Regions from separate parts of the Homo sapiens genome. Here region 1 is linked to region 2. A link means that fine-mapping ties the variant in region 2 to the expression of a gene that starts in the linked region. Tissue or cell type: whole blood. Region 2 holds a variant in brackets; the other region holds the start of a gene. All regions are shown on one strand. Distances are from middle to middle.

Region 1 (2,766 bases), 750 kb after region 2:
AGAAGGGGCCCCAGAAGGGCACGGCGTTTCATCAATAATGCAGAGGCTCCTGGACCTCCCTGCAATACGTTTTCCAGCTAAACGCCACCAACTGGAGCGCTTCCTGGTTCGTCCCACTCGTGTGGTTTTTGTGTGTGAAAGATGGGACGCACCTTTTTCATTCATCTGTCTTCTCTCATTCTTCCTCCTTCCCTCCCTCATTTCCTCCCTCAAAGTCCCCGCTGGCTTAGCTTTAAGCTCTCGTCTTCACATCAGCACCATGTTTTCAAGCAAAATCCTGCAGGTTGGAAATGCAAGTGTCAAAAGTCCCCACTGCCTACATACCGCCAAGAGTTTACCAAAATCCACCTAGTAACGCTTATTTTCAAAGCCCCCACGCGCATCCATTCCTGGAGAATGCTTTCAAAGTTTGGAAGCTCCCTGCAGCCTGCCCGTGTCTATGCCTCAGTCAGCTCACATCACGAACAACGGTGCGGTCAGCGGCACTGAGATTAGGCTGCAAAGTTGCCCGGCCCCAGCCCACTACACCGCTGATGCTCGCCGCATCCCTAGAGCAAATTCCGCTGTGTGCCCCCAAGAAGCCAAAAGCGGCACGAAACCTACTCCAACAAGGGTTAGCCCAGCCACACACACAACAAACAAATTCCAAAACTTCTTTGTTAAGCAGCCGCAGCCTACCTGGAACGGACACTCTGCACAACTGGCAAGGAAGAAACAAACATCGCATCCCTGCAGGAAAACTTGTTGAATCCCTCCCGATCGCAAGGCTGCAATTTCCGATTTAGCCTGAAGGTTTTTGATTCTACCCCAAAACACCCTGGCGCATCAGCCACAATTTCTGGATAAACTGCAGAGTCCTCTCGGCAACCATTCTGCACTCCAACAACCACTAGTGTAAAACCCAGCGTGTCCCCTTTTACAAATCAAAAGCCAGCTGTCACTTCCCTTGCAACCATTTCCGAGACTTACCCTTCCATAAGACTGTTTTCAGCAATCTAGAGGCTCCGTAGTGCAGACGCAGCCCTGCAACTTTGCTGTGCACTGAGACCTTTCCGAGTTTAAACCAAGCGAAAGGTGACAGACTTTTAAACCTAAGAGTGGGGAAATAGGGAGAGAGTGAAGTCGGGTTTCTTCTCTGTATCAGCACCCTGGAAAAATTCAATCCTTCTTCAGTAGAGAATTCTTTCAAACCCGTTATCTGTATTACTATTAATGCGCAGAGCAGAAGGCATTGCATACAAATAGGTCCAAGTGTGCGCTTCTATTGGTGGCTGCGGAGGCCCCTGGGTCCTACTGCTCCGGTCTAAACTACACAGCAACACTAGGCACGCAGCTTTGGAGACGCCGAGGGGAAAATGGATTTAATTGATTCGTTACCTCTGGTATTGTAATGCCTGCTGCGATGTTTAACCGAGGGGGGAGGAAAAAAAAAAAAAAAAACCCTTACATTTAACTCCTGTCATGTGATCTATCATTCCATAGCTGCTTTTAATTGTCTGTGTGGAGTGGCTTTGATCATACAAAGGATTTTAAAAGAACATTTTCGAAGGAAAATTCACACAGACACTTTTGGCAGGAAAACCCTCTTTTGCTCTCTATTATGCATTATTCTCATATAAATCCAGGAAATTTTATATAATCAAATACTTCTGCACTTCACGTAGGTACACACAACACCCAATTGTATTTACAATTCATAGCTACTACAAATAAAATACCTTACATGGGTAGTAGATAGTAGAAGCTAAAATATGAGTCTACCAATTATAAAACACGGGTTATATTAGTCAAATGCTACAGAAAAAATTCCATCAATGACAATGGCGTCAGCATCATTTTTACTTCGCAAAATTAGAAATTCAAAAATATTTTCCTTGTAAATATTGACATAAAGATATAAATCAACATAAAGGTATTATAATGTCACAGTATGTCAAGCATTTACTATTAATTGCTACATTATCTTTTTACAGTTTCTCTCTTAGCAAGTTCATTAGTAATGCAAATTGGCATAACAAGGAGATTTAAAGTGAGGCCGACCTGTGGTGACTAGCAATTTGAAATATTGTAATAGTGTGCAAAATCACTTTAGTTCATCATCGGTAAAGCCAGTTATTTTAAGAATTAGAATATTAAATGCTGAATCTTAATATATATTAATTTGAAGTCTTAAACATGCTGTTTTCTTTGACCTTTAATTTTGTGGAGGAAAAGAGAAATCCTTATTTAAACTAAAATGACATAGACTTTCCACAAAATCCTAGATACGATATTTACTGATATTATAATTTAGGAAGTAACATAATTTTATTGTCTTTGATGTAAATAATTGTGATAAATTCCAATTTAATTACAAAATTATTACATATATGTAATGTACAACTGAATGAACATTGTTGGAAAGGGCCACTCTGGATAAGGTTAACATCAACCAACCTATAAATTCACTACCTATGTGTAAACTAAATAAATGAAAACACAATGCAAAAATACAACAGACTCGAGATCTTATTCCAAATACATGTAAAGCATTTGAATTTATGTAGTGTGTGCTACAATCCCTCTTCATTTCCGTAACTCTTTCCCTTTACAGCCCCTTCCCTTCCCCCAATCAGTAACCCTTGACAACAGAAGTGTTAACTTCAAGTCCAGGTTGCCTTTGCTGCCTTCCAGACCTAACTTACAGATTGCATCCTTGTAGGAAACAGAGTTAACTCTTACACGACTGAGAGGTGAAAGAAGAGAGTTTCTTTCAGGGATTAGAAA
Region 2 (2,766 bases):
GCGAACAGGGAGGATCAAGGGTGAAGAAAGAAGACGCGGGGTTACCTGAACAGAGACATATTAATCCAAACAGGTAAAAGTGAGCGGGCTCCGCAATCATTGTCCTCGGGTGGATCCTGTATACAGTCTCATGCCAAGAGGAGGGAGTGGAAATAGGGTCCCCAAATGTATGAAGCCACACACCACACACAAAGGCTTAATATAAGCAACGTGGGTCAATTAGCCAAGAGTTTTCAGGGCAATTACTCGTCGACCTTTCCGGACGCTTGTCAGTATCTCAGAGACTTTTGCAGAGGAAGAATTCCAAGGTTTGTCTTCTCCGGCCCCAGGATTTCCGAGGAGGCTCAGACACTTTCAAGAACCATCCAAAGCGAACAACAAAGAGCCGAGGCAGAAGCGCAGTAGTGCCGTTTCCTGCCTCCACGGTCTTGCGGAGCCTCCCGGCGTGCGCCCCCACAATGTGCGGCCGAGCGCCGCTGCGAGGGCAGGCGCGGCGGCGGCGGCAAAGTTGGGGTGTGAGAGCTGCTGAGGGAGGGCCAAAAAGTGCTTCTCCGTCTCCCGGCGAGCCCAGTCAGCAGCGGGCCACCCGCGGCGGCGGCGATAGCAGCCAAAGTAGAAGCAGCAGCTCCGGAGGAAGGGCTCGGGGTGCCGGGAGTGTGACTGGGTGACTCCGCGCGCAGAGAGCGAGCGAGGGGGCGGTGCGGCGACAGCGGCTGCCTGGGCGGGCCCTTGTTCCCATCACTTGGGGGATGCGGAGGGTACTGGAGACAGCAGCAGGACCGCGGACACTCGCACGTCTTCTGGGCGCCCCCAGCCCCGCGCGGCGCCCAACATCGCCCTCGGCCCCTCGCCCTCTGGGGCGCTCGCAGGCACCCCTAAACTACGCAGAAGCCCAAACTTCCTGGGGGCAGCTGCCTGCACCCCTGGCTCGTGGAAGCTGTAAAGAGGCAGCTCCCGGCTCTCCCCGGGGTGGCAGAGAAGGGCAGAGAGGATGCTGCTGCGGGTGGGAGAGACGGCCGCCGCGGCTCACCCCAGCTCCTCCCGGATCAGCGGCGTCTGAAGTTTCTGCTCTCACGCTGCCTCCTCTCCAGCTCAATTGCTTGTGGGTTTCCCCCACAGTCCCCGCGGCTCCCAGTTCCCTCCCTCTCCTCCCCGGCCCGATAATACTTAAAGGGGCCGCGTGGTCCTTTCCATGCTTCACTCTATTCTCCAGGCGCTGGTCAGGCAAGTTCTGCTCCTCAATATTTCCATCCACAAGCCAGGGGTGCCCAACTGCGCCCTCAGGTGAGAATCCAATTGCTCGGAATCGGAAATCCAGGCGAATGAGAAACTGTCTTGTTTCTCTCGCCACCCCTAGCTCCCCTGCACCTTTCTCCAAATGGAACCTCCCAGCCAAAGACTTCAAAAATCCTCCTGGTCCAACTTAACCTCTTCCTTGCCGCTTCCAGGAATT[G/A]GAATAAACTCTCAACTCCACTCTCACTTCTCCCCATTCCCATTTAAAAAAAAAAAATCAATTTTGAGCAACATGGCTTTAGGACAGGAGGTAAACAGAGAACTATCCAGAACATATCAGTAGATGGGCAGTCTCTTACAACCATCCTTTTCTTTTAAGTTGCAGTTGTTGAAGGTCTTGTAGAAAAGATATCCAAATCATAAGGCACAGGGTTGGGCCTTGGGATCATTTCCTCATGTTTCAGTTGAAACTCTCTCTTTCAACTTCATACTCCACACATTAGAAAGCTAACAATGGGGATGTAATTTTAAGAGAGAGAGAAACAAATGCAAAAAACAATCTTGACAAGCCCAGAGTTTGCAGTTAGGAGAAGCTAGTCAGGCATAGGTTTGACACTCAGTATACCCGCCCTGAAATCCCAACCTGCCAGTTATAGCTCTGTGACCAGGTCTGTTTTCTCTTCTCTGTTTCTGTTCTCGAGATATTTTATTGCATTAACAAAAAATACACAAAGCAAAACAAACCTGACACGTCTGAAAGGCATTCATTCATTGAGTCAGTCATTTTTCTTTCTTTCTTTTAAATAGGACACAGTGGCCAGGCGCTGTGGCTCACACCTGTAATCTCAGCACTTTGGGAGGCCCAAGCGGGCGGATCATTTAAGGTCTGGAGTTCGAGACCAGCCTGACCAATATGGTGAAACCCCGTCTCTACTAAAAATTCAAAAATTAGCCGGGCGTGGTGGCGTTCGCCTGTAGCCCCAGCTGCTCGGGAGGCTAAGACAGAAGAATTGCTTGAGCCCAGGAGGCGGAGGTTGCAGTGAGCCGAGATAACTTGCCACTGCACTCCAGCCTGGGCGACAGAGCGAGACTCCGTCTTAAATAAATAAATAAATAAATAAAAAGACACACTATGTGAAATACCTAACATGCCGAATGCTGAATAAATGGCAGAATTAATATCTACAGAGTTGTGTACCATAACTTCAAAAAAAATTATTTGGTGTCTAGCAGTACATGTAAGAAGCTGCTTTCGGTGGTTGCCTCTGGAGGACAGAACTGCGCAATGGATAGGGCAGAGAAGGAGGATTTGCTCTTTTCTACATAGTGTTGTGCTTTTCCATGTCTTTTCAGGTGAGCACATTCATTACCTAATGGAAGATAAAAATTTAAAAGCAAATTGTACATTGATTTTGGTTGCTGCTGGTGCAACCAACGACCTTAGAGCGACATTTTGTGGAAACTCTGGTTAACAGCACCTATCTTTGAAAGTGAAAGATAGTCTAATCCTGAGAAAACTGACTATAAATTCAG

Evidence for each region. PIP is the estimated chance that this variant, and not a neighbour inherited with it, causes the effect.
Region 1: it holds the start of ROBO1, and the variant in region 2 is fine-mapped to the expression of ROBO1 in whole blood (TOPMed, PIP above 0.99).

What each region holds. Positions count from the first base shown.
Region 1 is chr3:79,766,783-79,769,548 of GRCh38, forward strand. It overlaps ROBO1 (roundabout guidance receptor 1), which reads right to left and starts at 1,216. Exons shown (of 31, transcript NM_002941.4): 1 at 970-1,216.
Region 2 is chr3:79,018,362-79,021,127 of GRCh38, forward strand. The region is part of intron 3 of ROBO1 (roundabout guidance receptor 1); the gene reads right to left. Among named protein-coding and RNA genes, the nearest start is that of MIR3923, 490 kb to the right of the region's middle. The variant G/A (reference allele first, on the strand shown) is at 1,454.